5 separate regions of the Homo sapiens genome follow, and all the other regions are reported to be linked to region 1. The links are microRNA targets in miRTarBase. Many come from high-throughput screens and were not tested one by one. Region 1 holds a microRNA gene; each other region holds the end of a gene's coding sequence.

Region 1 (6,356 bases):
TCACTGCAGCCTCGATGCCCCAGGCTCAAGTGATCATCCTTCTTCCTTGGTAGTTGGGACTACAGGTATGCATGACATCTCGCCAATTTTTAAAGTTTTTGTAGAGGCTAGGCATGGTGGCTAACCCTTGTAATCCCAGCACTTTGGGAGGCCGAGGCGGGCAGATGACCTGAGGCCAGGAGTTCGAGACCAACCTGGGCAACATGAAGCCCTGTCTCTACAAAAAGGCTGGGTGAGGTGGCTCACGCCTGTAATCCCAGCACTTTGGGAGGCCAAGGTGGGTGGTTCATGAGGTCAGGAGATGGAGACCATCCTGGCTAACACGGTGAAACCATGTCTGTACTAAAAAAAAAAATACAAAAAAATTAGCCAGGCATGGTGGGGGGTGCCTGTAGTCCCAGTTACTCGGGACCCTGAGGCAGAAGAATGGAGTGAACCTGGGGGGTCGTGCGGAGCTTGCAGTGAGCAGAGATCACACCACTGCACTCCAGCCTGGGCGACAGAGCAAGGCACGGTCTCAAAAAAAAAAAAAAAAAAAAAAATTAGCCTGGCATCCATAGTAGCACATGCCTGTAATCCCAGCTACTCCGGAGGCTGAGGCAGGAGAATCGCTTGAAACCAGGAGACGGAGGGCGCAGTGAGCTGAGATCGTGCCATTGCACTCCAGCCTCAGCAACAAGAGTGAAACTCTGTCTCAAAAAAAAAAATTTTTTTTGTAGAGATAGGGTCTCCTCGCTGTGTTGCCAAGCTAGGTTGAGTTGTGTAACTCCTGGCCTCAAGCAATCCTCTGTCTCAGCCTCCCAAAGTACCGTGATTGTAAGGGTGAGCCACTGTGCCCAGCCCCAGCTAACTAACTGGGTTACCTGACCACCTTCTAGGTCTTTGGGGGTAAAGAAGTTGATTTGCATAAAAGTACTTGGGGAAGTACTTGGTGCACAGCAAGTATAACCTTAAAGGGGTTGCTGTGAGGACTTCACAGGGACAGACCAGGAAGTACTGTTTACAAGAAGTACCATTTTTGAGTCAGACTCACCTGGGGTGCCTACCCTGTCCCTTTCCTCTTGGGTGATCTTATGCACTTGAGGTACCCCAGGGATCCTCCTTTTTCCTCCAAGTCTCACCTGCCAGAGGTCCAGGCCCAGCACGCCAAAGTTATCATAGGCATAGATACTGGGATCGGGAGAATACTCGGGGTTGTCAATTTCTGGGTGGATCCAAGTGCCCTTGTAATCTGGGTTGTCGATCTGCCGGGGCTTCCACTCACCCTGCAGAAGGGAGAAGGAAACCGAAGGGTGAGTAAGGTTGGTGCACTCCCCACTGTGAGCCCCAGCCCTGCTCAGAGCCCCAAACTCACCTTGTACTCAGGGTTCTGAATCACTGGGGGTTCCCACTCTCCGTCCATCTCTTCATCCCAGTCCTCGGGCTTCTTAGCATCAGGGTCAGGGATATGCTCGGGCTTGTCCCAGTCCTGGGGGGTAGATGAAGAGATCAGAGTTGGCCCAGATGTCTTCCACACCCTCCAATGTGGAGAGCAGAGCCCCTGCCCAAACACCAACCTCAGGCTTGGAGTCTGTGGGATCATCGATCTTGGCCCGCTCATCCCAGTCTTCCGGTTTTGAAGCATCAGGATCCTTTATCTTCTTGGGTGGCAGGAAGTCCCAATCGTCTTCCAAGGAGCCGGACTCCACCTGGCTGTTGTCAATCTTCACCTCATAGGTGTTGTCTGGCCGCACAATCAGTGTGTACAGGTGTGTAAACTCATCATCCTGAAGAAGGAAGAAGGTGAGCGGGGGCCACCCCCCAATGAGGCTGACCTCTGAATCTCCCCATGACAGCCATTTGCCACCACCCCCAGGCACACCTTGCAACGGATGTCCTTGTTGATCAGCACGTTCTTGCCCTTGTAGTTGAAGATGACATGAACCTTCTTGGTGCCAGGGCCACAGATGTCGGGACCTAGGTGTGAAGCAGATCCAGTTAAGAGTCAGAGACTACCCATCATCTCGAGGCTCTCACCCCTCTTTATAAAAGGAAGACCTGGTTCTTCAACTCGGGTCTGTCAAGGCTGAGAAGAGAAACTCAGACCCTGATTCTGTCCTGAATGGGCTGTGGGTGGAGCCTTAAGTTTAAAGGAGAAAAAAAAAAAATCAGTGCTCTAGAACTCAAAATCCTCATTAGTAAGATTGGGAAATAACTATATACAAACACGCAAATTAAATTAACAGCCTAGATCTGCGATCATAATGCAATAAATTGTTGCTGGGACTTATTCTTTTAGCTCCCCTTCCAAAAAAAATCATTATTAAGAAAGTCAATGGGGTCTGGGTCTCCCTCTAACTAATGGGACAGAGATCAGCACCAGGAAGCAGGCCCTCACCAAACATGATGTTGTATTCTGAGTCTCCGTGCATGTCTGTCTGGTCCAAACTATTAGGAAACAGCTTCACATAGCCGCCCCCACAGTCGATGTTCTGCTCATGTTTCACCGTGAACTGCACCACCAGCGTCTGGCCTTTGTTGCTGAAAGGCTCGAAACTGGCCGACAGAGCATAAAAGCGTGCATCCTGGCTTGTCTGCAAACCTGAGACGGGACGGTAGTGAGGTCACCGTTGGGCCTTGACTCGCGAGGACCCTCGACTTAGAGAATAGAGAAGACTCCCCCACTTCCTCCACCTGTCCTCCTCCAAGGGGACTGTCCCGGCTGTGTGTGTACAGACAAGGACTTCTGCCAGGAAGTCCTCCCGGATCTGAGCACCCACTCCTAGGCTCTTACCTTTATCTTTCTCCTCGTCACCGTAGAACTTGCCGGAACTGAGAACGAATTTGCCAAAATCTGACTTGTGTTTGGATTCGATCCAGCGGGAAGTCCACCCGTCTAAGTGGGGGATTAGAGGGGTAGGTCAGAGCGGCTGTGCTAATCCCCCCCCACACCAAACATCTGCCGAGAGCCACAAGCTGCTGGGGACAGGAAAGGAGATCCCCGACACTCCCCATTCCAACCTCTAGTTTGACACGTCGGGTGCCTTCAGAGATCCTCGGGCTAACCCTAACTCCCGCCGCGGGAGGCCGCTACGCCCTCCGCGCTCCCCAGGGACGCAGAAGAGAAATCGCCCGCGGCTCTAGTCCCGGGAGGCCACCGTGTTGGACCTCTAAACGGTAATTACGGGCGACAACGCAGATCCAGGATCGGGGGCCGGCCGCGTCGTCGGGGCGGCCTCGAGGCGGGACCAGGCGTTACCTCCGTCCAGAAACTGCTCCTTGAAGTAGACGGCAGGCTCGGCGACGGCCAGGCCGAGGAGGCCGAGCAGCAGCGGCACGGATAGCAGCATGGCGGGCCGAGGGGGCGGCAACGCGCGGGCCCTTTAAAACGACCCTCCGGCAGCGGCTCTGCAGTACGGACGGACGCCGCCGCCCGCCTTGCACTTTTATACCCACCCGCCTCTCAAACCAACCTGACCCAGCCCTTGGGCCCGCCCCTGCCACTTTGTCATTGGTCTATGCCCATGGCCGTCTTTTTCCATTGGACCTTCGTCGGTTCACTATGTTAGGCTGCGCCTCGGAACGCTGGGTTCCCAGATGGCCGATTTCTATTGGCCTCACCACCGACCAATGATGGTCGACCACGCGTGGGGGGGACGCCCACTGGTGGGGTGGGGGCCGCGAGCACCTCAGGCCAGGTCATGTGACCAGACCTGAACCCAACCCCGCCCTCGTCCGCGCGCGTCGTTGCCCATCTGGGCGTTTAAAGAAACCGCGGGAGCGCAGCTGTCTCCACGCGGGACCGGGACCCTGCCCTCAGCTTCTCTCCCTCCCATTCCCTCTAGGTGGAGGGGCTGGGCAAGGCTTTCTTAGCCAGCTCTTATCTTGCATTTGAGAACCAGCACCCCACTGCTGCTCCCCCACCCCTGCCTGGGATGGGAGAGAGCTCACGGATTGGGGCCCTTGGGGCTTCGCTGCACCCCGGTGCTACAGTCACGCGGGCCGGTGGGAAGAATGCCAGCCCTCTCCTCCTTCTGCCCCTAGAGCCCTGGCAGCCTATCGGACTGCTGCTGTGTGACCGGGGCAAGTCACTTAAGCTCTCTGAAGTGACAGACGTTCCTGAGCAGACAGAGGGGGCGACCCTGGCCAGATGCTACCCAGCAGAAATGCTTTTAACGTTTTTAAAGCTGTCCTGGGACAAGAGGGGAGGAAGGCTTAACGATGTGACTGTGACTTCTGGAGTGGGGATAGGGTTATTACCCAGATTGCAGCCGCCCCTTTACCCTCCTCTCAACCGGTAAATGAAGGGGGTCGCTGTCTGTGGTCTCCCACAAACGGCCTGGCTTTTGCAATTAAACGGCTATAGGCAGGCGAGAGGGCAGGGGGTTCCGTTTGGGGAGGGAAAAAAGACACAGATGGTAGGGACGATAAGATGCTAGGGAGATGGGCAGGACCCACCCCCCGACCCCAGTCTAGAGTCTTCTTCAGAAGCCAGAGGCACGTGACTGGCACCAGTACCCTGCCCCCACGCTGTAGAAAGGAGGAAGGAGAGCTGGGGGTTTTCCAAACTCTGGGCAAATAAGCCCTGGACCTGGGAGCGCGGGAGTGGACTATGGAAGGAGGGAATGAGGGGGATCCAGGAAAGAGGGTGGGGAGGGGGTGCTTCCTGGCTAATGGTTGTGACTCAGAAAAGAGAGGAAGGAAAAAATGAAAAGGAAAATAAAGTGGAGTGGGGGGAATGACTTGGCAAGGGTCTCTGGTTAAAAAAAAAAAAAAGAAATGGTGGCCGGGCGCAGTGGCTCACGCCTGTAAACCCAGCACTTGGGGAGGCCGAGGCGGGCAGATCATTTTAGGTCAGTTCGAGACCAGCCTGGCCAACAAGGTGAAAACCCATCTCCACTAAAAATAAAAATAAATAAATAAATAAAAATTAGCCAGGCGTGGTGGCGGGTGCCTCTAATCCCAGTACTCGGGAGGCTGAGGTGGGAGAATCGCTTGAACCTGGGAGCCAGAGATTGCAGTGAGCCAAGATCACGCCACTCCACTCCAGCCCACCAGCCCAGGTGACAGAGCAAGACTCCATCTCGAAAAAAAGACGGGGGAGAATGAACTGGGAAGTTGGGGTTCTACCACTTCCTCTAGGTAGTATTCAGTATTGCCTAGTCTGGTCCCCCCCATGAGGATCCCGGGGACCATCCCAGGCCTCTTGCTGACCCTTCCTCCTGTTCCTGTGTCAGGCACCTGTGGGCTTGGCGCTTCCTACTTGAGGTTAGACACTGCCTGTTTTGTTCACTTCGCATCCTCCAGTGTCACCTGCAGCACCTGGCACAGAACAGGCTTAAAAAGTACTTGCTGCATGATAGAAGAGAGGAAGGAAGGACTCTTGTGGAAATTAACTAAAAACACACGGGGCACAGTGGCTCACGCCTGTAATCCCAACACTTTGGCAGGCCAAGATGGGAGGAATGCTTAAGGCCAGGAGTTCAAGACCAGCCTGGGCAACATAGCAGGAGGCCATTTTTACAAAAACATTTTTTTTAATTGCCAGGCGTGGTGGCGCCTGCCTGTGTTCCCAGCTACTCAGAAGGCTGAGGCAGGAGGATCACTTGAGACCAGGAGGTTGACGCTGCCGTGAGCTGTGTTGTTGCCACTGCACACTCTAGCCTGGGTTACAGAGCAAGACCCTGTCTCAAAAATAAATAAAAATAAGCCGGACATGGTAGTTCACACTTATAATCCTAGCACCTTGGGAACCTGAGGCAGGCAGATTGTTTGAGCCCGGCAGTTCAAAACCAGCCTGGGCAACATGGTGGAACCTCATTCTTACAAAATATATATATGTACACATATGTAATATATTATATATGACATATAATGCATAAATATATGAATAGTATGTATATTATATATAGCATATAATATATAATATACATAACACAAATTAGCCTGGCCTGCTGGTACACACCTGTAGTCCCAACTACTCGGGAGGCTGAGGTGAGAGGATTGCTTGAGCCCAGGAGGTGGAGGCTGCAGTCAGCCAAGATCATGCCACTGCACTCCAGCCTGGGCAATAGAGTGAGACCCACTCCCTAAATAAATAAATAAATAATCAACATAAAATGGGAGGAGAGAAGGGACTTTGAGAAATGTATCCTTAATACAGAACCTCATATAGGGTCAGGATTTGGGGATATGAGTAATCCCATTTTACAGACTCAAATAATAATTGTGATGTAAAAGGAATAAATGTGTTCTGCTTATAAGAGTGTTCGAACATGGGCCACACTCAATTTAGTAAGCAGTGTGAATATGTGTGGGCATTTAATTCTCACAGTAACCTGGGCTCCAATCACCTCCATGTGAGCAAGAAACTGAGG
Region 2 (6,266 bases), not on the chromosome of region 1:
TAGAGAATTTCAGAAAGTTTTGCAATCAGGCCGTGTGCAGTGGCTCACGCCTGTCATCCCAGCACTTTGGGAGGCCAAGGTGGGTGAGTCACTTGAGGTCAGGAGTTTGAGACCAGCCTAGCCAACATGGTGAAACCCCATCTCTACTAAAAATACAAAAGTTGCTGGGCATGGTGGCACACACCTGTAATCCCAGCTACTCCGTAGGCTGAGGCAGGAGAATCCCTTGAACCCAGGAGGCGGAGGTTGCAGTGAGCCAAGATTGGGCCACTGCACTCCAACCTGGGTGACGGAGTGAGACTCCATTTCACAAAAAAGAAAGTTTTTCAATCAGCAAAATTAGGTTAACAGGTTTTCATTTTTGGTGAAAGTTTATATGAAGGCTAAGTATTAAAATGGCCCGATCTATATATGTTATAGTCAATTGAACATGACAGGGTCTATAGGTTTTAACTGTGCTAGTCTGCAATTTGGTGATGTTTCTGGAATGGAAAAACAAACTAAATTGATATGGTTTGTGGTCATCTCATTCTTCTCAAATCATATGACTAAATGAGTTCACCTAGGAGTGATTGTCAACCCTATCCTCTCCCTTAACGCACGTGTGCATGTGCACACACACAACTACAGCAGGTAAAATTTTAACACATTCCCATTAGATTATAAATTTGAAATCCTAGTGTAATATGATGCAGACAGAAGGCACACTGTTATCTGAATAAATTCTAGAATTCCTTTTTTGTTGTTGTTGTTGTTGTGCCAAATTGTGTTTTATGGCTATACTTAATAAATTTTGAAATGAGTCTTTTGCTAAAAATCATAGAGGATATTTACCCACATCATTTAGTTAGGAGCTATAAAATCAAAGTCTTAAAACACATTTGTTAAACTGCCACAAAATTCATTCTGAGGCCGGGTATGGTGGCCCATGCCTGTAATCCCAGCACTTTGAGAGGCCGAGGCGGGCGGATCGCCTGAGGTCGAGAGTTCAAGGCCAGCCTGGCCGACATGGGGAAACCCCATCTCTACTAAAAATACAAAATTAGCTGGGCATGGTGGTGCATGACTGTAATCCCAGCTACTCGGGAGGCTGAGGTAGGAGAATCGCTTGAACCCAGGAGGCAAAGGTTGTGATGAGCCAAGATCGCACCATTGCACTCAGCCTGGGCAACAAGAGTGAAACTCCACCCCAAAAGAAAAAAAAATTCATTCTGAAAAATCTGAAAATTAATTTTTTACTTTGGGGGTTGCTTTCAAAGATTAAATAGGGTTCGCCTTGCCACTGATTTTATCTATTAGGTTGATCAAAAATGGCTGAATATCTGCAGTTTCATATGGTTCAACCTGATTAGAATCAGTTTCACATTTAAATGAACAATACAGCCCTATATATTCCAAAGAAAAAAAGTCTTTGCAGGAAAGATAACCTCAGCTACCCTGCAACATGCTAAAAATACCAACTACAATGCAGCACCAGGGGTTATGGTGCTAGTAGCTTCCCATGTAACTCTGGGGTATTAAGAGGCAGGGACATTGTTTAAAATAACTGACCAATACAAAAATGTCATGCTGCCAAAAATTTTCTTATCCCATTCCCAAAGGTGTTTTGTTTGTTCATTTAGCTTTTCTCTTTTCCACCTTCCACAGAAGGCGCTGAAGGGTAATGAATCTTCAAGAATTAAGATTAGATAGAAACCTGAGTAACCAGTCATTTCACAGGCAATAATTGGCTACAGAGTAATGCTGACTTTGTTCTAAGTCAGAAGCTGACTTGGTTATTTACTATAGAACACAAACATCCACAGCCACTAAATGACTTTACTGAAAACTAGCCACATTAAGTATGACATGTAGAGATAACAAAACTACTTTTGAGAACATGGTTTAAAATTCTGAAAAATAAAAGATAAAGATTTTCTTATTTCTAATAGGGGGAAGGGGTTCCTACATTTCCCAGAAGATCAAACAAGAGACCCAAACACAGGATGTAACGACAGCCCTGTACAGCAAGATGCACTTTGCACAGACAACCACAGAGATTGCCTCCACTTCTTTATCCTAAAGTGTTGAGATTTAAATCAATTCAGACACTCTATATACAATTGAGTCTCTTTTCATTTTTAATTTTATTTTTTAAAAAAGACATTGAGGTTATGGTAAGAAATTATGAAGTTACATTTTTTTAATCTGTCAATTGCTACAGTAGTGGAATAAATAAATAAGTTTTTTAAAGTTCAATGTTTATAGACATACTTATAAAAAAATGACTGAATTAGAAGACATTAAATAATGTTGATACACACCAGGAAGGGATTTAGGCAAGGAAAGGCACATCATATTACCACAAGAAATAAAGACCATAGTTGGAGGTTAATGGACAGCCAGAACTTTAGATCTTGTGGTAGGTTTCCCAGCTCTGGAGGGTCATTATGGTGAAACGTTCTTTATAGTACTGGGCTGGAATAAATAAATAGCAGTTGAGGAATTTTACCTTGTAACTGTAATATAATGTAAAAAGAAAGCACACTTTTAATAACCCTGGTATGTGAAGAGGAAAGAAAAAAAATCCAAAACAATTTGGTGGTACTGAAAATCTTACGGAGAGTTAAAAATAATACTAATCCTCGCCCGGCTGAACTGGAATTCTTGCAGTTACAAAGTTAAAATTTCAAGTAAACACTGTATTTTTCACTTTTTGTAGACAGACACAGTGCAGATACAAACAGCTGCCATATCTCACCTCAGATGAAGCTATGTGTCAATGCTTAGGGAAAATGATCTTAGATAATTTCCCAATTTTATAGAGCTTAAATCTTTGAAAACAGCACTAATACTGCTGGTTGACTGGCTATCTACAACAGCAAAGTGAACATAAAGTTTTGACGATGAGAGGTTTCCCAAAGAAACTAATATAGAGTTTTTAGTTGAACAGATACAGTTACTTTAGTTTTACTGAAAAGTCTAACAGACATTAGCACAACTTGTTTTCGGTCACATTCCTACTCCCAATTTTCTTTCATAAATTTGTGTCAAGTCTCTATCCATTTCTTTCTGTCTAGACCTAGATTAGTTTATTTGAAAGATGGCATCGCTTAAAGTAAACCACATAAATTTTAGTGGTATTAAGTGTGTATTTAGTGGTGAATGTGTATAAATAAAATAGATTTTCATAATAAAATGGTATATCCACAAATAAAAATTAAAAACAATTGAGAGGTGGGGAAAATATCAGTATTATTTTAAAAAAATAAAAATGGCAATTGTAAAGCAGGCAGTTTCTTGCTCATGCCACACGATATGCCTTCATTAAGGTGTACTCTTTCCGGTTGGTGTGAGCAGCCCAGATGAAGAGAGCAGAAGCCATGAACTGTAAGGGAGCAGAGACACAAGCCAGGCAGAAGGACCATCCAAATTCACCGGATACATTGTCAGGGAGCTCTAGTTTCTGGTGGAGTAGTTCAATTCCAGCAACATAACAACTTACTGAGCCCAGTGTACACAGACCTTGGGGGAAAATTTAGAAAACAAAACAAAACATGGCTGGATAAAAGCACAGTAAAGAGCTTTTCAGGCAATGTGACAGGGCAGTTAATACGTGAACATTTCAGATTTATAACTCTTTGGTCCCTAAAGAGACAGGAAGAAGCTAAAAGGTAAGTATGATGACAAAACCTACCTGCAAGGAGATGGAGAATGCCCGTGGCAATGGTGGGATATAAGCTTCGGCAAATGCAAGCACAAAGTCCGATCAAAGCCCCAAAGCACATCAAACCTAAACTCACAAAAGGTAAAAGGAACTGGCAACGCCAAAGATCTGATTTTTAAAAAGAGAGAAAAGAAATGTTACCGTGATTTCAGACCATTTTCCCCGCAATGGCAATTTCTTTCATATTCTAATTAGATCTTTTCTCAAAAAGTGTGAAAGTATTTTAACATTGAGGCCTCTTTTCTAAAGCACATTATTCAAAAGGATGCTACTCTTGTCCTGATAAAAGTAAAAGGACACTAACAGGTAGTAGCAATTACTGAGGGTTCACTATGTTCCATGCTATGTTTGTCTACACATTTTCTGTATTAATCCTCCCAACAACCCTAGAAAGTAGGTACAGTCAGCCCTCCATATCTGCAGGTTTCACATCCGCAGATTCAACTAACCAAGGGTTAAAAATATTCAGAAAAAAAAATGATACAAATTTACAAATATATAGTATAACAACTATTTACATAGCATTTATATTGTATTGGGTATTATAAGCAATCTAAAGATGATTTAAAGTATACAGGAGGATTGTGTAGGTTATATGCTAATATTATGCCATTTTATATAAGGTACTTTAGCAACCTTGGAATTAGCAGGGGGTCCTGAATCCAATCCCCCATAGCTACAGCTGTATTATTATTAATTCCATTTTGTAATTAAGGAAACTGAGGCAAGAGTCATAAATAACTTGTAAAAATAACACAGTAAGTGGTAGAGCCAGGATTTGATACAAAAATCAGTCTGACTCTACCTACCAACAATATCTAGGTCTTTATATGATCTAAAGGCAGTAACAACAAGTAAATTAATGGTAATTATAAATGACCTGTCTTATAGGGCTGTTGAAGAATATATATAAAGCACAAAGCAGAGAATCTAAAGGTAGTTTTAATTATCATAAATCTCTCATCAACATGGGAAGAAAACCTGATGACCTCACAAAACATGCCATTCCATTTTCCAATAATATTCATTATTAGAAATGCATTCATATCAATCTTGACTAAACTTTACACCTTTTGGTGCTGGTTTTGCTTTCTGGAACTTCTTATGTGTTTTTCTAACTTACTTTCTTTCAAACTCTCCTAGTAATAAACTGCTTGCTACACATTCTCTTTATAAAACTGAATACCTACCTCTTATTCAACCTTTTCTCTTACAACATGGTCATTCTTCTGGGCAAGTCCCTATAGCCCTGAAAACTGAGGCTCAAATCTGAAGACAGTATTTCATGGGCTGCCTGACCATCAGGGAATAGGTTGTTCCTAATAAATACTTTCATCTTTTTTGACATCTACCCTTTTGTTACTATCACCTAAGACTGGATAAACACTTTTGACAGGCCTGACAACTCACTGACTCATTTAGAGCTTGCAGTAAACTTTTTTCACATATACTTACCTGAACTCAAGCAGTGGAAAGTGTTTAATTCAAATATAGGAATGTATAAGTTATCTCAACTAAATTTCCTTTTACTAAATGGGCCCATTAATAACATCTTTTGAAGGTCTAGATCCCATCATCCAATGAAGTAGTTGGCCCTGTCAACTTCAAATCATTTGAAATTTGGTAAGCATGTATCTACCTTCTAAAATATCAACAGAATAGAGTTCACTGGATACTGTTAGAGATTTTATTTCACGTTGGCACAATCTACTAACTCATCTTATTCCAAAAACATAGTCCAAAAAGAGACAAATAAAATTATCTTTGTTCCCCCAACTGTCCTGGTGAAATCAAAGTACTCACAGGTCCTAAGGAGATCAATCCCGCTATTGTGGTTTCCGGGATCAACAAATTTCTCCATGAACTGCTCAGTTAGTGTGAAACTCACACATTTTGTGACCACATCAAATGACTCTGGAACAAGAACAATTGCCTGTTGTTTTAATTATAAACATTTAACAAAAATCTCTTTCAGTAATTATTCTCTGAAGTAAAACAGTAAAGGATGTTTCCAGAGGGGTCAGCAACTTCTCTGGCCCTGACTGACACACAGGTTTCATAGATGTCCAATGGATGCCACTGGTTCTCAGTGGCAGGCTGAAGACATAGGCACAAGGAAGAAAAATAAAGTGGAAGCAGTAAAATGAATGGCAGAATAGCTATGTAGAAAGCCTAGGAAGAAGGGGAGGGAACAAAGACTGAAATAAATAGGAATGTTGATCTTCTCATGCAACCGTGCTTTATCAACCATATTCCCATCTCAGGGAATGCCAAATCCACACTTCCAGTTCCTCAGACCAGAAACTTTAGAGTAATTCTTGTACATTTACACTCCATCAGGAAATCCCAGGAATTCTTCCTTCAAACTATGTCCAGAATCCAGCTGCTGCTCAGTGCTACCATTCTGGTGTGAGTCATAATCATCACTTAACCTGAATTACTTCTATAACCTCCTAACCATAGTCTTCTAGTTTCCACCTTTGTCTGCTGCCTCTGTTCTCACAACAGCCAGGGTGACCAGATCAGGGCTCAGCACTGTATCTGGAGTCAACACCAAAGT
Region 3 (6,356 bases), not on the chromosome of region 1:
CCTGTAGTCCCAGCTACTCGGGAGGCTGAGGCAGGAGAATGGCGTGAACCCAGGAGGCGAAGCTTGCAGTGAGCTGAGATCGCGCCACTGCACTCCAGCCTGGACGACAGAGCGAGACTCTGTCTCAAAAAAAAAAAAAAAAAAAGAAAGAGCATAGACTTTGGAGTCTGCTGCACCTGGTTCGGATCCTTGCCGTTTCACTTTACCACTCTGAGCCTCAATTTGGTCATCTGTAAAATGGCATAAGCACCTATCTCACTGGGCTGGTGTGTGGACAACCTTGTGCAGAGCCTGGTACCTAAACAAATGATTCATTCATATTTGTCTATTCGTTCCACCAGTATTGAGTGCTTTTTATGTTCCAGGCACGGTTTTAGGCACTAGGTATGTAGCAGATTACAAAACAGTCCCTGCTCTCAAGAGCTTACATTCTTGTGGGGGATAAGAATTCCTTTCCCACTTCTCTTTGGCTGTGTCCTGTAATGGCCCTCTGTCTCTTTGGCATCACCTGTCCGTTTCTTGTCCTCTGCCTCCCATTCGTTGAGCCTAACTGTCTCCACTATCTTGGCTCCCCCAGGCCCCATCTCCTTGGCTAACCCCTGATCCAGCCTCTGTTCAGGTACGGCTGCTGTGGGATGTACTGACCCCTGACCCCAATAGCTGCCCACCTCTCTATGTGCTCTGGAGGGTCCACAGTGAGTCTGGTATTTGGCCTGGGTGGGGAGGGTGGGTCCCATACCCAGAGGGCTCAGTGATTCTGGTGGCCTTCTTTCCTTTCATCCAGGCCAGATCCCCCAGCGGGTGGTATGGCCAGGCCCTGTACCTGCATCCCTTAGTTTGGCACTGTTGGAGTCAGTGCTGCGCCATGTTGGACTCAATGAAGTGCACAAGGCTGTGGGGCTCCTGCTGGAAACTCTAGGGCCCCCACCCACTGGCCTGCACCTGCAGAGGTATGGTGCTACCATCTGGGTGATCCCTGGTCTGTCCGGGGCTCCACACCCCTTTTCTCTCACTCATACACTTCTGCCTCCACTAAAGGGGAATCTACCGTGAGATATTATTCCTGACAATGGCTGCTCTGGGCAAGGACCACGTGGACATAGGTGAGATTGCAGGCAAGGGGCTGAGGAGTTTAGGGATCTGGGGCCAGGTGTGGGAGGCTGCGGTCCTAACATGTTGACTTCCACCTTCTTCCCTAGTGGCCTTCGATAAGAAGTACAAGTCTGCCTTTAACAAGCTGGCCAGCAGCATGGGCAAGGAGGAGCTGAGGCACCGGCGGGCGCAGATGCCCACTCCCAAGGCCATTGACTGCCGAAAATGTTTTGGAGCACCTCCAGAATGCTAGAGACCTTAAGCTTCCCTCTCCAGCCTAGGGTGGGGAAGTGAGGAAGAAGGGATTCTAGAGTTAAACTGCTTCCCTGTTGCCTTCATGGAGTTGGGAACAGGCTGGGAAGGATGCCCAGTCAAAGGCTCCAAGCGAGGACAACAGGAAGAGGGATCCACTGTTACCAAAAGTCCTGATTCCCCCATCACCAACCTACCCAGTTTGTTCGTGCTGATGTTGGGGGAGATCTGGGGGGAGTTGGTACAGCTCTGTTCTTCCCTTGTCCTATACCGGGAACTCCCCTCCAGGGTACCCACAGATCTGCATTGCCCTGGTCATTTTAGAAGTTTTTGTTTTAAAAAACAACTGGAAAGATGCAGAGCTACTGAGCCTTTGCCCTGAATGGGAGGTAGGGATGTCATTCTCCACCAATAATGGTCCCTCTTCCCTGACGTTGCTGAAGGAGCCCAAGGCTCTCCATGCCTTTCTACCTAAGTGTTTGTATTTTATTTTAAATTATTTATTCTGGAGCCACAGCCCCCTTGCTTATGAGGTTCTTATGGAGAGTGAGAAAGGGAAGGGAAATAGGGCACCATGGTCCGGTGGTTTGTAGTTCCTTCAAAGTCAGGCACTGGGAGCTAGAGGAGTCTCAAGCTCCCCTTAGGAAGAACTGGTGCCCCCTCCAGTCCTAATTTTTCTTGCCTGCCCCGCCTTGGGGAATGCCTCACCCACCCAGGTCCTGACCTGTGCAATAAGGATTGTTCCCTGCGAAGTTTTGTTGGATGTAAATATAGTAAAAGCTGCTTCTGTCTTTTTCCTTCGGCCTCCTGTTCCCTGGGTCTGGGGTAATGCGGGGATACCTTTCATTTTCCCCAGGCTATACATCTGCTTTTCTACCTTCCCATCCTTTATAGTGTTCAGGCATACCCTGCGTCCCCTGACCATGTCTGGTACCGGCTCCTTGAGGCACAGGGAGTTCTCAGAGCAGGAGAAGGGTGAATCTGGTGCTGGCTATGGTGGTGCCAGTCCGTGTGGCACTTCCGGCCCTCCCACACAATCACCCCCTTGTCCCTCATCTATACCCCACACAAAGGCTCCATTCTCTGGGGACCCTGAGCTCATCTCTGCCTTATTTCCTCTCTTCCACCTTCCCCCACCAACCTTCTCCAGTACCTCCACAGGGATGACAATCATCTCCCCAGTAGTTGGTATTGGCAGCCCTCATGCATCCTGGCAGTCATCCTAGGCTGCCTGAGTTGCTGTAGCTGCAGGCACTATTCCTCCAACCAGGGTCTCAGCCTGGCAACAGCACCAGGAAGGCAGGGGCAAAGATTAAGGGACTTGCTGCATGTGGACATCAGGAAAACATGCATCATTTTCCTTATCCCTTTGGTCCACTTAAGAGCTTTTTTTTTTTCTTGTATAATGAAATAAACACAGGAAATGACTCCTAAAAGAGCGGCAAACCAATTACCAAAGGGAATTAGCCAATAAAACAAATGCCTTGGGGAAGGAGAGCAGGCGTATCAATGGAGGAAATAACTTACGAGAGCACATTTCTGGGGGGTGACCACTGGATGGAGAGTGAGGTACTACTTCTGGATGCTGAGTCTTTCAAGCCAGAGGACCATTTCCTATCCTGTCTTGAGCATGTTAGGATGCTTTTTCAGTGTCCTAGAGGAGCTGCACAGAAGAGAACCAAGGGGCTCAGGAAATGCCATTTATTTGTCTTACTAGGAGATGCTTTCTTCAGAGGGAAATTCTCACGCCACCCCAGTTTCTCATCAGACTGCAGTCCCCAGAATAAACCTCTTCCTGTTTCATCCCCCAAAGACCTTTTCAAGGGAGGACCTGGCCTTTTAAAATGAAGTTTCTGTTGAGTGTAGTGAGCTCAGCACTGCACTGAACTATAGAGAGAATTTCAGGGCTCAGTCCCTACCATAATGGAGCATACAGTCTTACTGGTCTGGAGGGCCCCTTTGTTCACAAACAATAACAATAATGAACTCTCTCTCCCAGCTTATGCTTCTCACTTTTGGGCCTCCTACAGACTTGCAGTCAGATGGAAGAACTACAGAATTCTTTAACCATAAGAATATCTAGGCTGGGCACAGTGGTTAACACCTGTAATCCCAACACTTTGGGGGCCAAGGCGGGCAGATCACTTCAGGCCAGGAATTTGAGATCAGCCTGGCCAACATGGCGAAACCCCATCTCTACTAAAAATACAAAAATTAGCCGGGCATGGTGGCTTATGCCTGTAATCCCAGCTACTCGGGAGGCTGAGGCTTGCTTGAACCCAGGAAGTGGAGGTTGCCATGAGCCAAGATCATGCCACTGCACTCTAGCCTGGGTGACAGAGCGAGACCCTGTCTTAGAAAAAAAAAAAACAAAAATCTGGGAATTTTAATAGCAAAGTATTCAACATGATATCTGACACATCTGTGTGTCCTATGGCCTAGGGAGCTGTATGAGAGGAAGGATATGCCCAAGTTATCTGGCCCATTTTCTCTTCCCAGGCTTTGGAGTGTATAGGCTCAAGTATAAAAAATTTGGGCTGGGCGCGGTGGCTCACGCCTGTAATCCCAGCACTTTGGGAGGCCGAGGTGGGCAGATCACGAGGTCAGGAGATCGAGACCAACCTGGCTGACACAGTGAAACCCCGTCTCTCCTAAACACACACACACACACACACACACACACACACACACACACACACACACACAAAAATTAGCTGGGCGTGGTGGCACCCGCCTGTAGTCCCAGCTAATTGGGAGGCTGAGGCAGGAGAATCGCTTGAACCCCAGAGGCAGAGGTTGCAGTGAGCCGAGATTGCACCATTGCACTCCAACTTGGGTGACAGTGAGACTCCGTCTCAAAAAAAAAAAAAAAAGGTCGCCTGAGGCCAGGTGCAGTGGCTCACTCCTGTAGTATCAGCACTTTGGGAGGCCGAGGAGGGTGGATTACTTGAGGCCAGGAGTTCGAGACCAGCCTGGCCAACATGGTGAAACCCCATCTCTATTCAAAATACAAAAAATTACGGCTGGGCACGGTGGCTCACGCCTGTAATCCCAGGGGAGGCCAAGGGAGGCGGATCATGAGGTCAGGAGTTCAAGACCAGCCTGGCCAACATAGTGAAACCTCAACTCTACTAAAAATACAAAGATTAGCCAAGTGTGGTGGCACGTGCCTGTAATCCCAGTTACTTGGGGTGCTGAGGCAGGAGAATCGCTTGAACCCAGGAGGCAGAGGTTGCAGTGAGCCAAGACTATGCTGAGACTACGCCATTGCACTCCAGCCTGGGTGACAGAGTGATACTCCGTCTCAAAAAAATAAAAAAATATACAAAAAATTAGATGGGTGTGGTGGCGGGGGCCTATAATCCCAGCTACTCAGGAGGCTGAGGCATGAGAATCGCTTGAACTTGGAAGGTGGAGTTTGCAGTGAGCTGAGATCACTCCACTCCACTCCAGCCTGGGTGAGAGAGAGAGAGAGACTCCGTCTCAAAAAAAAAAAAAAAAAAAAAATTTGGCTGGATGTGAGGGCTCACGCCTGTAATCCCAGCACTCGTAATCCAGCACTTGGGGAGGCTGAGGCAGGCACACTGCTTGACTTCAGGAAGTCGAGATCAGCCTGGGCTAAATGATGACAAAACCCCATCTGTCTCCATAAATTTTTTTAAAAATTGAGGAAAATATTGTGCCTGCCACTTAATAATTTTATGATGTCATACAAGTTACTTTACTGCTGTGCCTCAGTTCTTCCTCACCTGCAAATTGGGGGTCATTTAAAGATTAACTATATAATCCATAGCTTCAGAAAGGGAACAAACAGGTAGAGCCTGCATTGGGCACAGGTCATGTCCACTACAGTACTGACCTCATGTACTTGTCTTCCTTAAAGCTCGATCATTCCAGATTGAAAGTCCCCCTCCATGGCCTAAATTTTGGTCTTGTTGAAAAGTATTTTCTCGGGTCTTACTTTTATCTTCCTTGGGCTGGTATATACTACCATGTTTTTCATATCTCCTCAAAGCCCTTGAAGGGTGGCATTTCAGACAGCAAATAATGCAATGGACTGATAATGGACAAAGAAGTAGGTTAGGGAAAGATGAATGTACCCTCAAAGAGGGCAATGACTTTGTCTAATTCACTGCTATATCCTGAGCACATGGATGAGTGCCTGATAACCTAATAGGGGCTCTATCATGTGTGTTCAATGACTGAAAGGAGTCTGAAAGCGTTAAAATATTGCAGTTAGTAGAGAAATAATTTTCAGTACAGTATAAGACCAGTACCATGGGTAGAATACCAACAGAAGCTGAATTTAGAGGTAAGAGAGTGAAATTGTTGAAAAAGCAAGGAAAGTTCTCAAAATAGTTACTATATATTATGTTGAATGCTTTAACTATATTCTTGACAGTGCCCTGAGTATTTTGAAGGTATTATTTTGTAATTCTCATAATTACCTGGTGAGCTGGGTACTCTTATTCCCATTTTATAGATGGGGAAACTAGGGGATAGAGAATAGAGATAAGTAACTTTCAGCCAAATCACACAACTGGTAAGAGGGAGAGCCAAGATCCAAACTCAGGCAATCTGACTCTTGAGACCATATTCTTTACCTGGACACCATACTAGCATAAAAACAAGTTTTAATCTATTTAAAATAAGAATTAGGCCAGGCGTGGTGGCTCACACCTGTAAATCCCAGCACTTTGGGAGGCCAAAGCGGGTAGATCACTTGAGGTCAGGAGTTTGATACCAGCCTGGCCAACATCTCTACTAAAAATACAAAATTTAGCTGGGTGTGGTGGCGGGCACCTGTAATCCCAGCTACTCAGGAGGCTGAGGCAGGAGAATTGCTTGAACCCAGGAGGCGGAGGTTGTAGTGAGCCGAGATTGCGCCACTGCACTTTAGCCTGGGCAATAGAGGGAGACTCTGTCTCAAAAAAAAAAAAAAAAAAAAAAAAGTTGAATGCTGCTTGCAGTGATGTACACCTGTAGTCCCAGCTATTTGGGAGGCTGAAGTG
Region 4 (6,356 bases), not on the chromosome of region 1:
CAGATTGCTGCAACGTGGGGAGATCACTCAGGAGGCTACTCCAATAATCCAAATAAGAAATGATATAGCTTTAGATCATAGTGCTAACAGTCAACATGATAAATGGGCAGATTCTAAAGGCTGCTGTTAAGTCTGATTGAAGGTGGAGTGTGAAAAGTCAAAGATGGTGCCTAGGTTTTAGGCCATTGCAATTTAATGTTGACATTTACTGAGCATGGGGTAATAGTATATGTATATGTGTATGTCTTTATAGACATATGTCCAGTTTTAGACATTTTAAAAGACGCCCTTTAGCTTGTCATGTGGATAATGAATAGAAGCTATATGGGAGCTCAGGAGAAATAGCTTGAAGGTTAGTAAATGACGGTGGTTAACTGGGCTCCTAAGATAGTATGACATGAAAGTTCATTGTTTAGCCTTGACTACAAATTTGATACGGTAAATGAGAAATCAAGTTCTATAGAGGATCAGACAGTAGTACGTAAAAATGTAAATTTCATAATATTTTTTACAATACAGAAAAGAGGGCTCTTAAAAAATCTCATTCATAAATAGCATACAGTTTGGGAAGATCTAGATACTGATAATGGGACTTTAATGGAAGCATCCCAAGTAAAAGAACAATTGTCAGAAACATCTTGTATACCTGAATCATATAAAATTTTTCAAACCTGAGGCCAGAAATGAGCAAGTAGTTATAAGGTAGCAACAAATAATGCAACACAGTAATAATTTCTAGGGACTTAAGACATTCGGCGAACTTCAATATATTTAAGTCTTTTTGTTAAAATGGTTCCTCAAGTTTTTTTGGCAGGGGGTGGCACTGTCATGTTTTGAAGCCATTTCCAAATACCTTTAACCGTTGATTTTTCCATTACAATGGGACAGCACGAGAAATCTTAATAGTCACCTTAGGGTACCTTTAATATCTGTCAAACACTGCAAACACCCTTAACATAGCATCATTTCCACTTGGAAAAATTGCCTAGTGTCAGGCCACAGAATGGGATCTGGGTTCAAATTTGTTCAGCTAGCCAACACAATACTTAGGTAGATCTTTGCACCTGATTACTTTTAAATACTTGACGATTGGTTGAATTCCATGCCAGTATGGTTATTCAAATTAGCCAACTGTAGGACGTTAATGTATTTTAATATTCCAAGTGTAAATGTGGAAATCAATGTACTGTATTACAATTCAAAGTACTAGGAAATTGTCAGGTATCAGAAACGTAATACTTAAACACATTCTCTAAAGCCAAAAACAGCTATAAAAAAATAGCTGTAGAGTCAAAGGATTACTGGTTGTAGTCTGTTACAAGGGAATGCTACGAACAGACTTCTGAAAACGGTTCTCAATCTTCACTATTCATCAGAATCACTTGGAGGGTGTTTTAATATAGGTGACTGGGCTCCATGCCAGTTTGACTCAGGACTGGGATGGGGCCTGACAACTTATATTACAAAGAATTTCCTAAATGATGCTGAGATTGTTATCTCAAGAAACATTTTGAGAACCACCTTATTCATAAACTGTATAAAATTAAAAATCGAGCTCACACACATTAAGCTCAAGTGTGGATTTCATGTTAGCTGGAATTACCGAGTAAGACCAAAGTGTCTTTAAACACAGACTTTAATGGTAACAATTCCTTTAAGCTCAATTAACTTCAGCTATTACAAGTCTTATGCAGATGTCACTATTAGACAATATTTAGTGACTTGCACTGGGTTCCTCATAAAAGACAAATTCACTTAAAAGTGTAATCAACAATCATTAACAGTTTTGTTATGCCAACACAAAACATGGCTGAGTTACCCCCCTCCCCGCCCAAATTACTAACACAGCATGATCAGTACCTTAAGTATACTTCAACTAAGCCATTTCAACAAACAAAAAAAAACAAACAAAAAAAAAAGTGAGTGTTTCACTACCCCTGAGACCACTAGTTAACTGTGGTTCATACTTTAAAATGTGAGTACACCCACACAAGAAAGCAAATTAATCAGTTTTAAAAAATCTGATTATCACATTGCAAACTCGCCCAGGAAAAACAAACTGAGTCATTTAAAATGTAAATTTACCATTAACAGGCCAACTGGACCCTAATTCGGTTTATGCATTAAAAGATTTAGGAAATACAAAGACATAGTCAAAACTGATTCTAATACTCAGTTGGGTCCTATACATGGCACTAGTAATGTCAAATTACTGGGTGGAGTGGGGCAAAGAGGGCAAATTCTTAGATTCTTTTAAGATTTCATTGTACATATCTCATGTCCAGTGTCCATACATTCAAAAATGTTGGTTTTCCAGGTACTTTACTGTTCTTTTAAACCTGGAGAAGCCTCTATGGCTTATTCCCTTAGAAGCAACAAATGAAATGATGTATAAAGCATCAAGTCAAAGATACAGAGAACTGGACACATCCACTAATTGTTATGACAATCAAAGAAGTCATCTCCGTAAATACCTAAGGGTTGTCTAAGGCTATAAAGGTCAATTTGAAAGCCAGTTAGGGATCCACCGTGTTTCATAAAAGTGTCTTACACTCATGTTTGGCTTTCAAGAAGTGATATGCCTACTAAAGCTGTTATTTTGAGACTATATGCATCTCAGAAGTAATTTTGAAAATAGAGCCAAAGAGCAGTTTTTCTTACCTTGTGGAGCAGAATGTTAACTAATTTCTCATTCATAATTTGAATCCAAAAAAGTTATGCAGTATGACATCTACCCTGAAGGAGCCGTTTTAAGCAAAACACAAAATGAAAAAATTCACTCATTGGAAAAACTGCGTAGCTGGTTTTTTCCCCAATGAAATGATTACAGAATTAACAAAGCCAGAACATCTTCAGAAGGCATGCATTTCACTTCCAGTTTAGAGAAGAACCTTAAGTCAATAAATCATGTCCAAACTACATATTAAAATGTTTATAAAAAGTAAGTTTTAACATTTATTTCTAGCTTTCCACATGTGTGTGCAGACAAGGAATAAGATTGCACGTAAGTGTAAGCAGTGCAAAAATGTGGAAGTGGAGGAGTCACAGATGTGCTAGAACTTTAAGAAATAAAGCAGTGAACAAAATCAAAATAAACAGGAAAAATGTAAAACTATGGGATCAGAATTAGGAAAGGTGAAGAATGGTAATGCCCTTGTTACTACAGAAGTTAAATCAGTGGCACAGATAGCACTTGTCAAACAAAAAACAATCCAATAGCATTGACTTTTATTCATTCATGTTAAGTCACCTGAAATGATATCTGTTGCATTTAAATGCTCATTAATGTAAATGGCTGAACAAATCCATTTCAATGGATACTCAATATCCCACATAGATAAGTCACTTCAACACAGCCTCATGACAACTCCCACACCAAAACAGTACTTTATTTTGCAAATTTTGACCCATTATTACTCCCATGTTGTTTTTTTTCAGCTGTCAAGTGTACAAGGTGAAGAGAAATTTCAGTTAGACAGGGGCTGCACCTGGAAAATAAATTTCTTAAACTCCATAAACACATTTCAAAACTGCTGGGTCCCAAAAGTCCATCTATGAACTCTAGGGCTGCCAGTATCATGTGCAGCACATTAAAGCTACACTATCCAAATAGCTTATTAATTCTGCATAAATCAGGTCAAGCAATGTGTCAACCTGTAACAGACTGTGCACTTTAACTGAACATGGCAAAATATTCACTCTTTCGAACTTTACATCATCATTTGATGTCAAACAATGAAGCAAATCCCAACAGTATATACAAAAAACAGCTTTGCATTTACAAAAGATTGTTTCCCATACTGATTAATCCAGGCAGCTAACTCATTGGTTTATGCAACTTTATTGAAGAAAAATAAATCAATTACTAGCAGAGCTATTAGTTGATCACTCATCCATTGACAACTTGCATCATTTATTCAGTGCTATATTAAACAGTGTATTGGAAGATAGATTAACTAATAGCTCCAAGCCTCCTAACAATTTAAATGAAAATTACAAAATGTTTGAGACCCTATTTTGGAATACAAAGGGTGTTTGACTTCCAATTTCCATTCTCTGTAGAACAAGAACAGGTCATTCCTTTATTGACATGCATAAAATACATCACATTTTCTGTTCTGCTGATGCTATAAATTCAATACCAATTCTCCAGCCACATCAGTTATGAGCATAAAGCATATCATGTAACCTCAAATCTCTAACAGTGGAAGGCTTAAACAAGAATGGATGCTGCTAGAATAATGCTGTATCCTTTGATGTGACAACTGAGCATCCATCTCCCTCCCCCTCAGATGATTTCTTCAGCATGTTAGAGCAGTGAGGAATGGTTTTAGTCTCATAACCAAGTTAGAGTGAAGACATTGGCCACATAATACACATGCTCCATTTTTTTTTTTAAAAATTCTGAGTCTTGGGCAACTGTTCTCTTGTAACTACTTTACAGTTTCTAAAAGCAGTTATTGTCCAAAGCTGGAAGAACTTAAGTCTTCTCAGATGAGCATGTGAATGAATGGAGGGAGGTAAACAAAAAATAAAATTAAAAAAGATGAGGTCTGATAGGGGAGCAGCCGGATAAGAAAATCAAAAAAGGAACAGTAATTTAAAGTTTATTCCAGCTATAATGCAGGTTATTCTGACTTTAAGGTAGCATCACATGGCATACTTCTGAGTCCATTCCCGAGATATTCTGTTGTACCTGTAAATAAAGATGTTATTTTTAAAAGTTAAAATAAAGAATTCCTAATACTTTAAATGGAAGGGAAAGATTTCCATTTTATCATCTCCAGACTCATCATGAAGTCATCTCTAATGACTATGATTAGAATAAAAGCCAACAAGGGAGAAATAGCACTGGTACTCAAAGCAATGTGGGAAATGAGAGCCTGATGCTCTGAAAGTAGTATTTTAAAAACAACTAAGAAAGCAGCACTGAAAATTGGGAGGCTAACAAAAATCAAAAGACCCTTTCTTTCTCTACCACCGAGCTCATGCTCTAATTTTAACGTGAAGAAATTTTTACAGTTCATTATGGACAAATGTTAAAATAGTATACACATTCTATCTATCCACAGAAATTTCCACCAAGGCCAGAACTAGGCTTTTACTAGAACAATTTTATCTGAATCCTAGAGTTTGGGAAATTACTTGGTCCTGGATATTACAAGAAAAAATGGCTTTGGGACTTAGGTAGAGGCAGAAGGGGAAGATGACACTGGGCAGAATGACAAAGGGCAGTAATTTTCAAAAGGGGTGTGTGTGTGAGTGGTTGTGTTCATCAGAATCACGTGTTACTTTTAATAAGTGTGGTAACTGAGGCTAATAAGCACCACTGAGACCTGTTGAGTACAACAAGGGCATCTTCGTTTAAAAAGATCAACAGGTAATTCACACACAAGCAAGGTTATTACTCAGGAAGACTACTAACATTGATAAATACTATCAGCTTCCCCCTGGATTATACTCATGCCATAGACTACTTACAACAACAAAAAACAGTGATAACCTTAAGAAATGAATATATATATATATATATGCACAGGAGAATTTTTATATTGTTTAAATATTAACTAGCTTTATTTCAAACCAAGAACCAAATATGGTCCAACAACTTTCCTAAACTTTTTAAAAAGTTCTTTCTACCAATTCATTGTCATCTCCTAAGGATACTCTCTCAAAAAGCCAGCACTTTAAAACAAAGGCTTTATTTAGCATACAGGGAGCCACAAAGTACAGCTGACGCTAATGCATGCTTGTCAGTAATGAACATTTAGTTTAGATGCTTAGGCTTAAAAGTGTTTTTCCCTTACATTACTATCTCCCGGCAAAATTTGAACTAAACCACCACATTCTGTATAGGATTGGTACAAAGTCTCAAGCTAAAATTTAAACACCATGATAGTTTGAAAAAAAAAAAAGATACTACATAAATTCCCATTTCTTACTAGTGCTATTGTAACTGCTTTGCCATGCAGTACTTTCAAGCAATAACGGCTACCAGATATTTACTTTCACGTTAAACAGAGACCAAGCAGTTAAATGTACAGTTTTCAGAAGACTGCCATATTTGTTACCTTTTGTTAGTTAATACAGTGCCTTAACGCATGCAGCACTCAAGTGCTGGCAGTACCATAATAAGCGCACCATAGAGTGCAGATCCTCTTACCCTACAACATAGCGTATTTCTCTGTCCACTCTCTTGCTAACCTATTGTACCTAATTGAACAAGTACACTTAGCATTAATTATAACATATGAAAGTTATAATGGTTAAGTTGAACATAAATATAATTCAAATATTTGAGAAATTTAGACCAAATTTTTACAATAGTACTAACATTTTTGGAAAAACATGCTTGG
Region 5 (6,356 bases), not on the chromosome of region 1:
CAAATATCAATTCTAGGCCAGGAAAAGCTGGCAAGAAGTGTTCACCAAGAGATTAAAAAAAAAGTCATGGACAAAAAGGTTTGGGATCCTTGTGGTCAGAACCTGGTGCCTAATATGTACAACTATTATGTACCCATAAAAACTAAACATTAAAAAATGAAAAGAGCCTGGACGCGGTGGCTCACGCCTGTAATCCCAGCAGTTTGGGAGGCTGAGGTGGGTGGATTGCTTGAGCTGAGGCGTTCAAGACCCACCTGGGCAACATAGTGAAATTCTGTCTCTACAAAAATTAGCTGGGTGTGGTGGTGCACACCTGTAGTCTCAGCTACTTGAGGGGCTGAGGTGGGAGGATAGCTTGAACCTGGGAGGTCAGCTTCAACCTGGGAGGTCAAGGCTGCAGTGAGCCGAGATCGTGGCACTGCACTCCAGCCTGGGTGACAAAGTGAGACCCTGTCTCAAAAAAAAAAAAAAAAAGAGAAAAGAAAAGAAGAAAGGAGGGAGAGAGAGAGAGAGAGAGAGAGAGAGAGAGAGAGAGAGAGAGAGAGAGAGAGAGAGAGAAAAGAAAATAAAAGAAGCTGGTGCCTAAGCCAGCTCACATTTAGCCCTGGTAAGCATCTGATTTAGAGATATTCCAATGCACAGCATCTGGTTTAAAATCCTTACACCGACACACTACCTTAGGGCAGCTCACTTCTCCCCATATGGGACAACCACGAGTGGTCCAGAGCTAACAGACAAAAGTCAGAGGCTGAGAGAAAAGAAAGAAGTTCCTTTCCCAGGATGTAGCCCATTAAGAGAGAGTCACCAGACCTGTCTGGTGAGAGAAATCAGGTCACCTCTAGATCTGAGTGGAGTTACTTGCCCTGCCTAGAGTCCCTGGTTTGGAGCCTTGAAATCTGACACACCTCTAGGAAAGGAAGGGAGAAAACAGGGGACCCAGAAGGCATCAGAGTGGTCCTGCCGGCTTCCCCTGTAGAAGCAGGAGTTCTGACAAAAACCCTTCAGTTTTGAGTCCTATTGGTGTGGCCAAGCTTGGACCCTGGGCTTAGCTCTCTCCATCTTGCCAGGTGGAAGAGTGACCACCTGATGTGAGGGCAGCATTCTCAGGGGGCTCAGCAGGCGTGCAGGTCAGCTTTGGCAATAAGGCTGCCCCTCAGGACTGGGCCTGCCTCATGATTCTGCTTTAGGCATAAAAATGCTGGCCAAATCCTAGACTTATTGAAGCTGGAAGGATTCGTTAATAGCTGACATTTGAGGCTGGGTGAGGTGGCACAAGCCTGTAACCCTAGCACTTTGGGAAGCTGAGGCAGGAGGATCGCTTGAGCCCAGGAGTTTGAGACCAGTCTGGCCAACATGGTGAAACCTTGTCTCTACTAAAAATAAAATAAAAAATTAGCTGGGTGCGGTGGCAGGCACCTATAGTCCCAGCTACCAGGAGGCTGAGGTGGGAGGATTGCTTGAGACCAAAAGCCACTGTCACGCCTGGGGTGACAGAGCCAGACCCTGTCTCAAAAATAAAAAATAAAAAATAAATAAAAAATAGGCCGGGTGTGGTGGCTCACGCCTGTAATCCCAGCACTTTGGGAGGCCAAGGTGGGTGGATCACGAGGTCAGGAGTTCGAGACCAGCCTGACCAACATGGTGAAACCCCCGTCTCTACTAAAAATACAAAAAATTAGCTGGACATGCTGGTGCATGCCTGTAATCCCAGCTACTAAGGAGGCTGAGGCAGGAGAATCGCTTGAACCCAGGAGGCAGAGGTTGCAGTGAGCCGAGATTGCACCACTGCACTCCAGCCTGGGCAACAGAGCGAGACTCCATATAAAAATAAACAAAATAGGCCGGGCGCGGTGGCTCACGCCTGTAATCCCAGCACTTTGGGAGGCCGAGACGGGCGGATCACGAGGTCAGGAGATCGAGACCATCCTGGCTAACACGGTGAAACCCCGTCTCTACTAAAAATACAAAAATTAGCCGGGCATGGTGGCGCGCGCCTGTAGTCCCAGCTACACGGGAGGCTGAGGCAGGAGAATGGCGTGAACCCGGGAGGCGGAGCTTGCAGTGAGTCGAGATCGCGCCACTGCACTCCAGCCTGGGCGACAGAGCGAAACTCCGTCTCAAAAAAAAATAAAAATAAAAATAAAAATAAAAATAAAAAAAATAAAAAATTAGCTGGGTGTGGTGGCAGGCCCCTGTAGTCCCAGCTACTAGGAGGCTGAAGTGGGAGGATCGCTTGAGACCAGAAGCTCGAGTTTGCTGTGAGCTGAGATCACGCCACTGTCGCACCTGGGTGACAGAGCCAGACCCTGTCTCAAAAAAAAAAAAAAAAAAAAAAAAGTCCTGGCGCAGTGGCTCACTCCTGTAATCCCAGCACTTTGGGAGGCCGAGGCAGGCGGATCACCTGAGGTCAGGAGATTGAGACCAGCCTGGTTAATATGGTGAAACCCCGTCTCTACTAAAAATATAAGAAAACTAGCCAGGCTGGTGGCATGCACCTGTAATCGCAGCTACTTGGGAGGCTCAGGCAGGAGAATTGCTTGAACCCGGGAGGTGGAGGTTGCAGTGAGCCGAGATCGTGCCACTGAACTCCAGCCTGGGCGACAGAGCGAGAATCTGTCTTAAAAAAAAAAAAAAAGCTAACATTTGTTGAGTCTGTCCTATGGGTTACTTTACAGCAACTATAAAAGGAAGGTACTGTTTTTCAGTTCCCCTGTTTATAAATGAGGACACAAAGGTAAGCAAGATTAAGAGCCTTGGCCAAGGCAGGCTGGGAGTCAAACCCAGGCTGTCTGAGTCCAAAATCGCAAATTTTCTCTTTTTCTTGGGTGGGGGGACCGAGTCTCGCTCTGTCGCCCAGGCTGGAGTGCAGTGGCGTGATCTCGGCTCACTGCAAGCTCCGCCTCCTGGGCTCATGCCATTCTCCTACCTCAGCCTCCCGAGTAGCTGGTACTACAGGTGCCCGCCATCACTCCCGGCTAATTTTTTGTATTTTTAGTAGAGACGGGGTTTCATTGTGATAGCCAGGATGGCCTCGATCTCCTGACCTCGTGATACGCCCGCCTCGGCCTCCCAGAGTGCTGGGATTACAGGCGTGAGCCACCGCGCCCGGCCAAAACCGCCATTTTCACTCTTGTGTTAGCCTTTAGTCCAAGCCCCTTATGATACAAGAGGGAAACTGAGGCCCAGGGAGGTATAACGGCTTTTCCAAGGTCGCACAGCCAGCCAGGGACACAATCCAAGCCTCTCGGCGACAGGTCCAGGGCTGCTTGGATTTCGGAGTGTGGTGGGGGCATCTTGGCGGCCTTTTTCCAGCCAACCCCCGCGGCCGGCCCGGCCCAGGCCCAGCCGGGTGAGCTGATGACTCAACGGGCAAGCACTGCATTTTGCGATCCTGGCTCGTCCCGCTGCTCTAGAGGGTTCCCAGCTCTCGGGCCGGACGGGCGGCAACTTGTCTGAGTGAAACCGGGAAAGCTCCGCCCCTCGGCGCTCAGCGGGCGGCGGGGGCGCCTCTCAGTCAGTCAGCGAGTCGTGGTGTCCGCCAGGCCTGGCGGGCGGCGGGAAACTCGCCGCGCGCGTTCCGCCGCTCACTTTCCCATTGGCCAGTCAGGCCCCCGGGGCGGTACCCTGGGGCAGCTCCCTCCTGTGATTGGGCGGTATTGGCCTCGGGCCCCGCCTCCAGTCCAGGGCTGCGAAGGCGGGACGGAGCAAGGCGGCTGCAGGTTCCGGCGTGTTGCTGGCTGCAGAGAGCTCAGGCAGCGGGCTCGGTAGGCACAGCTCCCAGCGGCCCTTCCCACCCAGCTCGTCCTTCCTCCCCTTCAGCCCGTTTCCTTTTGTCTCCATCTCCGAACTCTGTGGGACGTGACCCTCTCCTAAGATCTAGGCTTTTTTGGCGGCGCTATACCCCTTCCTCAGATCGTACTCCCCTCCGCTGAGATCTGAGCCCTTGATGAAACTGTGACCCGCCTGCAAATCGGGTGCTCAGTGCCGCTCACTACTGCGGCGCTGTCCTTAGATCTCACGCCGGAGACTTCACTATTTCCTGCCCCGCTCCACCAGAGCTCGTCAGCCTCCCGCGCCGTGGCTCCCACTCACCTCCCCTCAGCCCGGCAGAGGAGCCACGGCGCCTCCTGTGGGTTCACCCGACCCTCCCGGTCCCGTCCAGTTTGACTGGGGCCGCCGTGATGGAGAGAGCCGGACCCCGGCCTCACCTGGACTCAAAGTCTTGCGTGCGGGCCACTGAGCCACCTAGGGAGTTCAGGGCCCTAACTCAGAGGTCCAAAGTCAGGGTCTCTAAGTCAGATTCCAGTCCCACTCCCAGCCCATCGCCAAGAACTGGAAGAGAGACAGGAGGAGTGTCACAGGGGAACTTTATTGAGAGGAAACATGGTCACACCCAGCAGACATGCTTTCCCTCAATCTCGGTCTTGCACTGGCGCGCGCGCACACACACACACACACACACACACACACACACACCCATCTCCAGCCCCTGCCACTGTCCAGTTCTCAGCCACAAGGCGGGACACTCCTCAATTCCTACGATCAGAGGCAGCAGGGGCAGGAGGGAGGCAAGAGGAGGGGAGAAGTAGCCTGGTCCTGGGGTCGGGAGGAAGCGGGTGCGGAGAGCAGGGGTGGGGGCATGACCAGTGGTTAGGTGCGCTCAACAGCTGCAAGAAGAGTGGGATCCCCAGCCCCAGGTGGCCTCAGCTCTGCCAGTCCCTCTCCACGGAGCCCTTTGGAGCAAGAACAGCGCCTAGGGGAGAAGGGTGGGGCCTCCCACCCCATACTAGTCCTCTCGGCAGGGTGGGGGACTGGAGGGGGCAGGGCGGGGCGGTGGCGGGCAACACTCAGCTCTGGGGCTCCTGGGGAGCCTCGCCCCCCTCTTCCCCGGCGTTGTCGGCCGTCCACAGTGTCAGGTTGTCTCGCAGCAGCTGCATGATGAGGGTGCTGTCTTTGTAGGAGTCCTCGCTGAGGGTGTGCAGATCAGCCATGGCCTCGTCGAAAGTGGTCTTGGCCAGAGAGATGGCCTCCTCGGGGCTGTTGGCGATCTCGTAGTGGAAGACGGAAAAGTTCAGGGCCAGGCCCAGGCGGATGGGGTTGGTGGGCGGCATCTCCTTCTTGCTGATGTCCATGGCCTCCTGGTAGGCTGACCGGGCTGAGTCAATGATGCGCTTCTTGTCGTCACCGGTGGCCACCTCGGCCAGGTAGCGGTAGTAGTCACCCTTCATCTTCAGGTAGAAGACCCGGCTCTCGGCGTCCCCGGCCTCCTTGATGAGGTGGCTGTCCAGCAGGCCCAGCACGGTGTCGCACACGCCCTGGAGCTCAGTCTCCACCTTCTCCCGGTACTCACGCACCTCGGGCCCCTTCTCCTCCGAGCCCTCCTCGTTGCTTTTCTGCTCAATACTGGACAGCACCCTCCAGGCAGCCCTCTGGCCGCCCACCACGTTCTTATAGGCTACTGAGAGCAGGTTTCGCTCTTCGCAGGAGAGCTCCTCGCCCTTCTCCACGGCGCCTTTCATGAAGGCTGCCATGTCCTCATAGCGTTCGGCCTGCTCTGCCAGCTTGGCCTTCTGGATCAGACTGGCTCTCTCCATGGCTCTGGGGACACACAGGCGGGCGGCGGGCTAACTGCTGCCTGGGACCAATGCCGGACTCTGTGTCTCTCCTGCTCTTGGCCTGCCTTTTGGCTGGGTGGCCAGGCCCAGAGAAGGGTGGGGAGGAGCAGGGGGCGGGACCAGGGCCCAAGACCTGCCTCCCTCTCCTCTCTTCCCCACACCCTTTCCGGCTCTGCAGTAAAGGTAAAAAGGCTGGGATGTGGGGGTGAATCATCAGAACAGTCAGCAGGAGAAATCTGGGCGTGGGCCCCACCTGCACTGGCACCTTTCCAGGCTCCAGGCTGCCCCCTCTTGTTCGGGGCTGGCATCACATGGCTGCCCACATCAGGAAACGGCTTCTCAAATCAGATCCACTTTCACAGTGCCCTTCCAGGGGCTAAGGACGGCTTTAGCCCCTGGCTGCTTCAGCCTCGACAGAGCCCATAAAGGTTCAGGAGGATGGGGTTCCTAATCCTGCCAGGTAACTTCCCCCCTTGGTTCAGGTGAGGATAACTCATGTTTAGGTAGGGCCATGGAGTTTCCCAAGCACTTTCATATTCACGATCGAATTTAATCCCCACCATGTCTCTGTGACACACACAGGACCATAGAGATGGGAACACTAAGTCTCAGAGAGGGGTGAGATTTGCTCAAAGTCACATAGCCACCAATTCCCTGAAACTCCTTTCTGCACCCTCTTCCTTTAGCTTTTCTCCCATTGAGGCCTCTGACCTATGAGCTCCAGACTGTGTTTGGAAGTGA

The links. Region 1 holds the annotated microRNA hsa-miR-6515-5p (UUGGAGGGUGUGGAAGACAUC, at 1,503-1,523, opposite strand). A microRNA usually pairs through its seed, bases 2 to 8, with sites in the 3' UTR of a target mRNA and lowers its output. Matches are read on the target gene's strand: a 7mer-m8 pairs with bases 2 to 8, a 7mer-A1 pairs with bases 2 to 7 and ends in A, and an 8mer does both.
Region 2: miRTarBase lists CLDND1 as a target of hsa-miR-6515-5p. Seed matches in the 3' UTR shown: 7mer-m8 at 2,418-2,424 and 7mer-A1 at 2,364-2,370.
Region 3: the mRNA of DENND4B is a reported target of hsa-miR-6515-5p. Seed matches in the 3' UTR shown: 7mer-m8 at 1,625-1,631 and 7mer-m8 at 2,003-2,009.
Region 4: miRTarBase lists UBE2D3 as a target of hsa-miR-6515-5p. Seed matches in the 3' UTR shown: 7mer-m8 at 4,512-4,518.
Region 5: the mRNA of SFN is a reported target of hsa-miR-6515-5p. Seed matches in the 3' UTR shown: 7mer-m8 at 4,813-4,819.

The regions. Positions count from the first base shown.
Region 1 is chr19:12,935,653-12,942,008 of GRCh38, reverse strand. It overlaps MIR6515 (microRNA 6515), which reads right to left and starts at 1,525; the gene lies at 1,469-1,525. CALR (calreticulin) reads right to left here and starts at 3,400. Exons shown (of 9, transcript NM_004343.4): 1 at 3,239-3,400; 2 at 2,774-2,875; 3 at 2,378-2,581; 4 at 1,862-1,956; 5 at 1,557-1,766; 6 at 1,355-1,468; 7 at 1,122-1,265. The coding sequence starts at 3,329. RefSeq lists enhancers at 953-1,580, 917-2,116, 3,009-3,058, 2,353-3,102, 3,729-3,778 and 2 more and a cis regulatory region at 3,160-3,798.
Region 2 is chr3:98,513,376-98,519,641 of GRCh38, forward strand. It overlaps CLDND1 (claudin domain containing 1), which reads right to left. Exons shown (of 5, transcript NM_001040181.2): 3 at 5,510-5,620; 4 at 3,677-3,814; 5 at 2,108-3,504. The coding sequence ends at 3,284. Among named protein-coding and RNA genes, the nearest start is that of CLDND1-AS1, 6.1 kb to the right of the region's middle.
Region 3 is chr1:153,925,286-153,931,641 of GRCh38, reverse strand. It overlaps DENND4B (DENN domain containing 4B), which reads left to right. Exons shown (of 28, transcript NM_014856.3): 25 at 578-695; 26 at 785-950; 27 at 1,039-1,103; 28 at 1,200-2,141. The coding sequence ends at 1,345. LOC101928059 (a long non-coding RNA gene) reads right to left here. Exons shown (of 4, transcript XR_922160.3): 2 at 5,204-5,401; 3 at 2,872-3,007. Among named protein-coding and RNA genes, the nearest start is that of GATAD2B, 5.5 kb to the right of the region's middle.
Region 4 is chr4:102,792,765-102,799,120 of GRCh38, forward strand. UBE2D3 (ubiquitin conjugating enzyme E2 D3) reads right to left here. Exons shown (of 8, transcript NM_181891.3): 8 at 1,619-4,696. The coding sequence ends at 4,651. The region is part of intron 4 of LOC102723704 (a long non-coding RNA gene); the gene reads left to right. Among named protein-coding and RNA genes, the nearest start is that of UBE2D3, 32 kb to the right of the region's middle.
Region 5 is chr1:26,862,451-26,868,806 of GRCh38, reverse strand. It overlaps SFN (stratifin), which reads right to left and starts at 5,658. Exons shown (of 1, transcript NM_006142.5): 1 at 4,351-5,658. The coding sequence starts at 5,594. The coding sequence ends at 4,848. RefSeq lists enhancers at 3,300-3,609, 3,820-3,949, 5,094-5,973 and a silencer at 5,843-5,992.